Linked DNA regions of Homo sapiens. The protein of the gene in region 1 purifies or fractionates together with the protein of each later gene. This does not show direct contact. Each region holds a gene or a part of one and is shown in the gene's direction. Other genes may lie near its edges. The genes, in order: UNC13B, SNAP25 and GLB1.

What was found.
Region 2: the proteins of UNC13B (region 1) and SNAP25 fractionate together in Homo sapiens (co-fractionation; one study listed by BioGRID). This does not show direct contact.
Region 3: the proteins of UNC13B (region 1) and GLB1 purify together in Homo sapiens (co-immunoprecipitation; one large-scale study listed by IntAct). This does not show direct contact.

What each region holds. Positions count from the first base shown.
Region 1 is NC_000009.12:35,308,492-35,312,146, forward strand, and holds part of UNC13B (protein unc-13 homolog B), read left to right. Parts: intron 1-1,975; coding exon 1,976-2,290; intron 2,291-3,655. UniProt on the Homo sapiens protein: Plays a role in vesicle maturation during exocytosis as a target of the diacylglycerol second messenger pathway.
Region 2 is NC_000020.11:10,225,267-10,228,921, forward strand, and holds part of SNAP25 (synaptosomal-associated protein 25), read left to right. Parts: intron 1-1,411; exon of another isoform or gene 1,412-1,514; intron 1,515-2,020; exon of another isoform or gene 2,021-2,172; intron 2,173-3,655.
Region 3 is NC_000003.12:33,010,086-33,013,740, reverse strand, and holds part of GLB1 (beta-galactosidase isoform a preproprotein), read left to right. Parts: intron 1-3,655.

The sequences.
Region 1 (3,655 bases):
TCATAGCTTGCTTTTTATCCTTCTTGTGTCTTTCCTAGTACCCGAGCTTCATGTTAATTAGGGGTTAAATAACAAGAACTCAGTGTGTGGGTATTTTCATCCTCCCCTTCTCTCTCTGCCAAATGTAATTCATTTACTGGAACAAGGAGCTTCCTGCTTAAAGCAAAAGCTGGGCCCCCGATATTTACTCACTCTGGTTTGCTCTGCCTTGTATAATGTGAAATGGAGAAAGGAGGGCAGGAAGAGGTAGTAAGTAGTTGGTGGTATATATTAACTACAACTACATGATAGGCTAGGATGCTTCCTTGGGCCTTAGGCACTTATATCTTGTAGGAGATGGGGATAGATCTATTTTGCTTTGTTTTTTCAAGTCTTCTAAGATGCTTTCTCCAGTGGCAATGAGTGTATTAAGCAAAATACAAAGTGCAAAGGATGCCTTGGGATAGTCTGTATTCCCATATCCTATTCCATACAGATTTGCATAGTTTCTTCCATGGTATCATCTCTGCCTTTTACTACCCTCAAGGCTGATGTCTGATAAATGCTTTGAGTAAAATCTCACAGGAACTCAGAGCTGTCCTTTGCTGTAGTTCTTCAGTCTCGAGCAGTGTACAGGATCTATCTGCAGAGGGTACTGTTATTTCCCCTAAGAAGCAGTACCATACAGTACAGATTAAGAATGCTACCTTGACCTCTGGCCCAAACTTGTTCAAAGGGGTTGGTCAGGGTCAGTGTGTGTGTGTGTGTGTGTGTGTGTGTGTGTGTGTGTGTGTATACTTATGTACAAGTATATGTGTTTGTGTGTTGAACTACTCAGAACAGTGACCTGGTACCTATTCTGCTGGCATGGGCTAGAGGATCAGAAATCAGCCTGAAAATACCAGGTAATTAGGAGGAACTTTAGGGAAAATCCCATTGGAAAATAACAGTGATTTCTCTTCTTTGACCAAGGGTAAACACAAGCCCTTTAGTTAAAGGCTTGACTCTGTGGTAAGAAAATTCTTCAAAAGAACTGAAGCCCTTAGATGACAGGGCCATAAAACTCAAGGAAGTAACTTCTAGATACTGCTCTTCTTTCCACCACTCTGCCCTTCTTGCCACTGTCACATTCTCTGCTATAACTGCTTTCTCTCATGACTTTCTGGATATGGGAATACAGGTGATTGAGAAAAGATTGGCTTGCTGGTCTTCAGATATAGAGATGCATGAATACGGCTCTGACCCAGATCCTGGAGTTGGACTTTGTCCACTCTTTCCAAAACTGAGCCTTGCCCTGAAAGAAGCTCAGTTACAGATGTTCATCTTTGGGACGCTTCCTATGCTGCCAGGGATATCATTGTAGCATTTATGTTGATGAGACCATTCGTTTGTGTATTCTCTTGGTCCTGGCCTCTATCTTCCAATGGGTTCTATTAACTCATCTTGCAGATGAGGAAACTGAGATGATAACTGAAAGAACATGTCTGCTCTCCTTTGCTCATCCTAAGGTACAGGCGTACACATTTACAATTGTAGAGGAAGAAATGATGACCTCAATGTAATAAGTAATAGAAAAAGAGTGGAGTTCATTCATTCCATTTTACTGTGTGGAAATTAAAGAAAGATTAATCACAGCCACTGGACAAGCTTCTTTAGAAGACTGAATAAAGAATTTTAGGAATAAGTAACAGGCCATTTTAATAATTTTTAATCCTACTCACAAATAGCCTATTAAGATAAAATATACTTCAAAGTCAAGTGCAGAACTGAGGTTAAGTGTCGTTGGAGAACCCAGCATGTTGTGTTGTTTTCCTGTTGTGTTTTCGCTGAATAGAGACTAATTCTTCTAGATTATGAAGTTTGGTCCTCTCTTCCCAGGAACCTCCTATTTGATTCTTGCTACTAATGTAGTCATTATTTCCTGGATGTCTCCTTTCTTTTGTCCTGGTCCCTGATTGCATTTATTTACTTATCTGTCTTTCTGTCATTCTCACAGCCCCACCAGCAGCAGTAGGTATGGCTCCTCCTGTAATGTGAGTCAAGGAAGCTCTCAGCTAAGTGAACTAGACCAGTATCACGAACAAGATGACGACCATCGGGAGACGGACTCGATTCATTCTTGCCACAGCTCTCACAGCCTGTCCAGAGATGGCCAAGCAGGTTTTGGAGAACAAGAGAAACCCTTGGAGGTGACAGGTCAAGCAGAGAAGGAGGCAGCATGTGAACCCAAGGAGATGAAAGAAGATGCCACAACCCACCCTCCCCCAGATCTGGTGCTGCAAAAAGACCACTTCCTAGGTCCCCAGGAGAGGTAGGCAACAGCTGCCTTGAGGAGCTCACATGGCTTCCTCAGTACCTGCCCTGTGGTATTGCTGAAAATAAGTGATTGTCATTTGTTTCCCTGCAGCTGGGTATGGTGGTAGTTAACACCTCCAGGCTCAACTCTGTATTGCTTCCTTTGATTTATGGTGCACTTTCCAAGACATTTTGGAGATCTCTGAAGAATATTTGGGTTTTTGTTTGTTTGCTTTTGAGATAGGGTCTCACTCTGTTGTCCAGGCTGGCACGATCTTGGCTCACTGCAGCCTCAACAGCCTGGTCTCAAGCAATTCTCCCACCTCAGCTTCCTGAGTAGCTGGGACTACTAGGTGTGCACCACCACACCTGGCTAATTGTATGTTTATAGAGACAAGGTTTCACCATGTTGCCCAGGCTGGTCTTGAACTCCTGAGCTCAAGCAATCCACCTGCCTCAGACTCCCAAAGTGCTGGGATTACAGCGGTGTGCCACTGCACCCAGCCAGCACTTGGGTTCTTTGTAGTTAGTGAGCTGCAGTGTACCAGGGCTTCTTGAGTCTGCAGTTCATAGCTTACTAGTTGACCTTGTATATGGCAGCCTCTGAGTCAGGAACTGACTTGAGCCAGGTTATTTCATCCACTGGGGCTGTGGTAGGTACTTTGGCTGACTTCCTAACCTATTAAGAATGCTACTTTGACCTCTGGCCCAAACTTGTTCAAAGGGGTTGGTCAGGGTCAGTGTGTGTGCATGTACTTATGTACAGGTATATGTGTATGTGTGTTGAAGTACTCAGAACAGTGACCTGGTACCTATTCTGCTGGTATGGGCTAGAGGATCAGAAATCAGCCTGAAAATACCAGGCAATTAGGAGGAACTTAGGGAAAATCCCATTGGAAAATAACAGTGATTTCTGTTGTAACTTTTTTGGTGAACATTTTGTTTTGTTTTTCCCTGGCTGAGAAACCCAGGACAGAGTTAAGAAAGAATTGATCTAGAAGTCAGATTTAACCCACCCCTCAGCCTCCTCAGGGCCTAGCAATGTGTCTGCCAATTGGTATCCATAGGAAGAAAAATTTAAAATGTATCCTCTTTAACATCTCATAATGAAGCTGAGTACAGAGTCTGAATGTTATTACTGAGCTAAATCGGTTAGACTAGCTGATAGGTTGGAGCAGAGCCAGAGTTCTCAGTCTCGGCACTCGTGACATTTTGGGCCAGATTATTCTTTGTTGTGTATATTATAGGATGTTTAATAGCATCACTGGCCTCTACACACTAGATGCCAGTAGCAATCCTTGCAACCCTCAGTTGTGACAATTAAAACTGTCTCCTGACAGATTTCCCCTGGCGGGGACAGTTGCCCACTGGGGTAGAGTGA
Region 2 (3,655 bases), on another chromosome or scaffold:
CTACTGCAGATTTCAATGTCTTTCCACCAAGGTAAAACATGGTATCACAAGAGGAAATCCTAACTGATTTTCTTATTGTTGACTACAGAGGTCAACCTCAGCAGTGACTGACTTACTGGTAAGAACAAATCTGTATCCCTAAAAAGAGATGGGGGGAAATCCTATTTAAGGATTAGCATTTCCTTCTAAATGCTTAACAATGATTCCAGAGAAATTCAGTCAAATGATGCCTGCTCCCGAATGATGCTGAATAACAGCTGTACTGGGCTTATGGCTTGCTTTCTTTGGTTGTGGAAAAATATATTTCATCCTCTTCTTTGCTGTTGTTGATATGGTTCATATTACTCAAAGATGTCTAATTCTCATGTCTTAAATTGAGACTGTTGGCACTTTCTGCTGACTCATTGTGTCTTAATCTTCCAAGGTGGTCCATTTTTACTTAAAGAAAAAGGTTATTTTCCTCCAAAGTGGCAGGTTCTACAAAATGACCATCTGGTCCCAGCTTCCCCATCACTTCCTTTATTCAAATGACACTAGTCACAGATCTTGAACTTGAGAGATGACTTTCCATGCCTGTAACCTTGAATCAGTGGTTTCTGTCCTTTACTGATAACAGCAAGTAAAAAAATGAAAGTCTCTTAGGTGCCCCCCTGAGGCCAGAGTTCAGCCCTACACTCCTGCCTCATTCCTTTTTCAGAGAATTTTCTCAGTTGAGCTCTGAAAATCCTGCAAGTTGGACAGAGTTCCCTTTCCATGAAGAGTCTCAGACCAAGTTGTTAATCTCCTTTATTTATGTTCATCTTTGGTACAGTTTCAAAGAATAATAACTGGCAAATTCCAAAACAGTGAATTTCTTAAATTTCCCTGCAGTTATTCCGAAGTTGGTCTGGCAGCTAGGTATAGGTAAATCACACTGTGACTTCTCTATCAATAAACAGAAAATGCACAGAAATAAATGCCAGAAAGACTGCTAGGAAGAACACTGGCAAACTATTTCAATACGCATTAGCCTTGTTGAGTGAATTTTTTATTTTAATGGGAAAGTCCATTCCTAATTTATGCCAGAGAAATTGCTGAATGTATCTACTTTTTCCAATTCCATGATCACTGCCCATGTATTGCTTCATCATAAATCAGCTGCTATTATGGCATTCTTCATTAATTAATCCATTGAACAAATATTTATTGAACACCTGCCATGTACCAGGAAAACATACACTGGTTCCTAAAGTCAGAGCTGTAAATAAAATCATCATGTTTCTGCCCTCCATGTGTTATGCTAGGTGTCCCCTCTTGAGGTGTCATTATTTTAAAAGGCATGTTTCAATGGGATGCCTTTTAGAATCTAAGACATTAATTCAATGTAGAAAAGAGCTATGGCTCTCTAATCAAAATATACAATCTATTGAAGGTTTCTACTGAGCTGTCAGTATCTACAGAGAGATTGCTATATCATAAACAAATACATATTAAGAACCAGCCTCAGCCATCACCGAACTCAGTAAATATCTAAGGTATGTCTTTGTGTGAACTTGTCTCTATTTACATGGCAATCAACTAGGATGTCACTAAAATGTCCCTTAAATACATGACTATATTCCAGTATCCCAATCTGTTGGGATCTCTCCCTGTAGAGACCACTTTCTGCCGCTCATGGGAGGAAGGGGTCAAGCTTTAAGAAACATGGTACCTCCTGGGCCAGAAATCCTATTCCCAACTCCAAAACTCATGGAGCAATGCAAGAATAGGTTGACTAAGAAAGGATCCTTTGGATGAGAGTACTTCCCAATCCAATCCACTTTCCTCCTCTGAAAACTTCCTGTCATTAAACAAAGTTCAGTGATTCGGGATCAAGTAGAATTATGTAGTGATTCTGGATCAAGTAGAATTATGTCTTAATTTCCCAAACTCCTACTTCTAGAAATTCACCTCTTACCAATGAGCAATGCCCCTATCTCCCTTGTAAGATTGATCACACTGCTTTGTAGTTACCTACTTATGTATTTCTCTTTCTTAATAGACTTTGGAAGTCTTTGAGAGCAAGGGTAATATCTTAGCTTTCTTTGAATCTTCAGTACCTATAACAGTGCCTGCCACACCCATGTATGCAGGAAATAAGTGAGCGAATGGGGATACCAGCTACCCCTTTGCAGAGAAAAGAATTCTACCACTGTAAGTAATCCTGCTTTTTATTGATCAAATGTTATGATCAGAATAACTCAGGAATTGTTGTGTACCCTTGCACATAGATTCATCCTAAATATTGGAATAAAATTATGTCCCAAGGAATTACTTAGGTTTACCCTAACTAGCTGCCAAACTATGGCAAATGGTATAATATTCTAATCTGTTGTTTTATCACTTATGAGTCAGGAGTTAAAATGCTAACGAAGGATCAAAGGATTCTCAATAAAGGCATTGCTAAAATCAGGTTTATATTCAGAGATTAAAAGCCATTCACTAAGAGCATTTAAAGTCAAGCAGTTTAGCATATATGAATTATAAGTTTAAATGTTTTACTGTTCACTAGGATGAAAAGGATATTTCATACATCCATTTGAGACATATATTACATTCACCAGTGGGGTAGATTTATGGCTTTGGCCAACTTGTGTTTTCAGGGTCACATATTTGCTGCTGTGCTATTAGAATTGGCATGGTGGACACAAGTTTTTCATGTCAATTCCGCTTCCTTAAAAGTGTCCTTCAGAGACACCAGTCTCTGGGCTTTTCCTCTCAAATAGTCAGTGTCCTCTTGCCTGGGAGAGAATCATAAGCCTGGGCATGATTTGGTAAATAAGTCCCATTTGTCCTTAGAAAAAAACCTTCACCAGTTGAGCATTGAATTTTGCATATCTTTTTTCCCCATTCCTTCTCATGAAAACACGGGTTACTCTGCATCCAACTTTCTCCAGAGAAGACTGAAGATACTACCACTTAATGACCACAAGGAAAAAAGTAACTAACTTCCTAAATGTCTACTGTGTGCTGCACTGGGCACTTGATGTATGTTGTTTCCTTTATTTTCCATGGCAGCCTTAAAAGAGTTCGGAACACTTGTCTCTGACTGCAAAGTCCATGGTTTTCCCCACCACCCCATAAATTATCCCATGAGTTGCACAAAATACATTGAGATCCTCTAACAGAAAGCACACTGCTGATACATAGAACGTGAGTCAGCCAAATCTAAAAAGCTGAGTCCTCCAAGCTAAATAGCCAGGTGAGATATGGTGGTGTAAGTGACCAGAGAAACTATGTGTCCAAACAAGTTCATGGAGCAATGGGTGGAGAGTCAGCTGGCTGCATGCCAGCTCTGCCACTTCAATTGTATAACCCTGAACAATTTACCTAATCTGAACTGAGCCTCACTTTTATTTACATCTGTAAAAGGAGAGCAATTGCTGCCATGCATATATGTCAAGTGGTTGTCGTGAGACCTAAAGGAGCTAATGCTTGTGAAGTAGTTACCTCCACCACTCTGAGAAAGAGGAAGGGACTGTTGTTATGTTCAGTTACCTGCTATTTGCCATACCAGATTTCCAGGGTTCTTTATTATAGGTTACATGAAGGCCATATGCTTCTTTTCCTCTTTATTGTTGTGTTTGCTTAAAAACAAGTCTTGGTATCACATATTTTTTAGCTTGATCAGCATGCA
Region 3 (3,655 bases), on another chromosome or scaffold:
AAGACAAAGAGGTGGATCCCTCTGGGAGAGTCTGTCTGGTTTTCATTTATGCCAAGCCCAGTGCTCCCAGAATATCCCCACCTGCATCCAGCCCCACACCCCTGGGGCTTCTATCATAAGCTGTCTGCTTCTCCACTCTTCCTCATCCATTTTCACTTCCCAGTCACTCCGCCTTGTCGTTTGAAGACATTGGCATATCTTCCTTCACCGCCTTCTCCTCTCCCTCATGTCCTGTTTTCATCCTAGATCACCTTACCATCACTCATTCAACACACTTCTCATTCTGTGGCCACTATGTGCCCAAGGTGTGTGCCAGGCACTAAGGATACAATCATGAATAAAACCAAACATGGTCCTTTCCCTCATGGAACTTTCAGTCTAGTGAGGGAGGCAGACTCATATTAAAAAGTAAAACCATAGCTGTGATGGATGCTAAGAAGGGCTATGGGGTTGATAATAATTGGTGCATTTTGCCTTGTCAGGGAGGTCAGGGAAGCCTTCCCTAAGATAGTGATGCTTGTCAGAGATATGAAGGATGAGTAAGAATTAGCATGGCAAGAAGGGAAGAAAGCATGTTCCTGGGAGAGGTAACAGCTTGTGCAAAGGCCATGGGGTTGGAGGGGAAAATGTCAAGTGTGGAAAGTAGGTAGAGACTAGATTGGGACGGGCCTTATAGGCCACGTTAAAGTTTTGTCTTTGTGTTGAGAGCCATTGAAGCAGGAGAGTGACATGATAAGACTGTGATCTGACAAGCTCCTCTGACCCCATTGTGCAGAATGGTTTGGGTAAGGACACTTATGGATTCGAGGAAACCATCTAGGAGGCTGGACCATAGTCTCATTGAGAAACTGGGATGGTGGTATCTAAGATGGAGATGACATCAACTATTTGAGAGATGTTCAAAGTTGGATCAATAAATTGTGACAATGGATTGGACAGGAGGGTTTGGGGAGAGGGATATGTCTCGGATGACTCAGGTCTCAAGCTTGCAGCTGGGCAGAATGGTACCATTTGCTGAAAGAAGCAGCTTCAGAAGGGGACTTAGGCTTAGAAAGGGGGGTCATGAGTTTGAATTTAGACCAATTGTGTTTGAAAAGCTGCCTTAGTCTATTTGGGCTGCTATAACAAAATACCATAAGCTGGGTGGCTTATAAACAACAGGCATTTATTTCTCACAGTTCTGGAGGCTAGGAAGTCTTCAATATCAGGGCACCAGTAGATTTGCTGTCTGGTGAGAGTCTACTTCATCATAGACAGCACCCTCTATGTCCTTACATGGCTGAAGGGGCAAAGGAGCTCTCTTGGGTCTCTTTTATGAGGACACTAATTTCATTCATGAGGGCTCCACCTTCATGACCTAATCACCTCCCAGAGGGGGCCCCACCTCCTAACCCATCACATGGGGGCTAGAATTTTAACAGATGAGTTTTGGGTGGACACAAACATTCAGACCATAGCAGAGGCCTTGGAGAATGGCTGGGAAAGACAGTATTGGAGGAGGGTTGTTGGATCTATAGGCTGGGAATTCAGGGCAGGGATCTGGGCCAGGAATGTATGTAGAAGATCATTGTTGTATAGATGATTGTTGAAAACATGGGCTGGATGAGGTCTCTCAAGGAGAGAGGATGCAGAGGGAAGAAAAGAGGACGTAAGGCTGATGTTTGAGGGACAAAAACATGATGAAGACTGAAGAGGAGAGACCAAACAAGTAGGAAGAAAACCAGCATTTATGCTGCCAAGAGGACAAATAAGATAAAGACAGAAGCACTTCGGTGGTTTTAGAAGCAAGGAGGCCCTTGGGAATCAGTAAGCCTTGTTCCAGTGGAGTGAAGCATCTCCCAGCCAGATTGCATTCTATAGAGAAGACCAGGGTAAGGAATACGAACAGGAATACTTGAATATAAACGTTCTTTTTGAGAAATTTAATTCTGAAGAAGAGGAGAAAATTATGTTAATAGCTGGAGGAGGAGAAGGCAAAAGATGTACATGGTGTGTGTTTAATAAAATGCCCTTTTATTTATTTATGTGTTGCTTGTTTAAAATTTATTGAAATGTATTTTCATTATTCTGTTTGAAATATTTTCTTTTTTTTTTTTTTTTTTGAGATGGACTCTGTCACCTAGGCTGGAGTACAGTGGTGTGATCTCTGCTCACTGCAACCTCTGCCTCCCGGGCTCAAGCAATTCTCCTGCCTCAGCCTCCAGAGTAGCGGGGACTACAGGCACACACCACCACTCCTGGCTAATTTTTTTTATTATTTTTATTTTATTTTTTATTTTTTGTTTTTTTTTTATTTTTATTGGAGACGGGGTTTCATCATGTTGGCCAGGCTGATCTCGGACTCCTGACCTCAAATGAAGTCTCGAAAAGTGCTAGGATAGACATCTGAATTCATTCCAACTTATAGTTATTATAGTTATTATAATACTGCTGTAAACACTTGCATGTAAGTTTTTATGTGAACTTGGCCTCGAAAAGTGCTAGGATTACAAGTGTGAGCCACCACAGCCATCCTGTTAGAAATATTTTCTACTTTCCCATATGATTTCTTCTTTGAACCATAGATTATTAAAAAGTATGTTTTACTGGGTGTGGTGGCTCATGCCTGTAAATCCCAGCACTTTGGGAGGCCGAGACGGGTGGATCACCTGAGGCCAGGAGTTCAAGACCAGCCTGGGCAACATGGCAGAACCCCATTTCTACTAAAAATACAAAAATTAGCCAGGCGTGGTGGTGAGTAACTGTAATCTCAGCTACTTGGGAGACTGAGGTGGGAGAATCTCTCGAACCTGGAAGGCAGAGGCTGCAGTGAGCCAAGAGCATGCCACTGCACTCCAGCCTGGGTGACAAAGCAAGACTGTGTCTCAAAAACAAAACAAAAACAAACAAACAAAAAAAGTATGCTGTTTAATTTCCACATATTTTGGGTTTGTAAAAATATCTTGTAATTATTAATTTGTAACTTAATTCCTCTATAAAACTTCTAAAATTTCTCTCTAGGGAGAGAAATCTCCATGATCTTGGGTTAGGCAAAGACTTCTTAGATTTGACACCTAAGGCATTATCCTTAAAGAACAAAAATTGATAAATTGGACTTTATCAGAATTAAAAATATTTGTTCTTCAAAAAGCATTATTAGGAAAATGAGAATCCAAGCCACAAACTGGGAGAAAAATAATTTTCAAATCATATATCTAACAAAGGACTTATATCTAGAATATGTAAAGAATTCTTACAATTCAATAATAGACAAACAGCCCAGTCACAAAAGGAGCAAAGAACTTGAATAGACATTTTACCAAAGAAGGCATAAGATGGCTAAGTACATTTGCATTTGTATACCTTCTTTGGTAAAATGTCTATTATAAACTAAAATTAGTGGCTGATTAATGTTCAACATTATTAATCATTTGGGAAATGCAAGTCAAAACCAAAATGAAATACTACTTCACACTCACCAAGATGGCTAAATAGTAAGAAGGACAATAGGCAATGTTGGAAAGGACATGGGGGAAAGGGAATCTTCCCACATTGCTGGTAGAAAGATAAGAAGGTACATTTGGGAGCATAGTTTGGCAATTTCTTCAAGGGCTAAACATAGATTACCATAGAACCCAGCAATTCCGCTCCTAGGTATATACACAAGAGAAAGGAA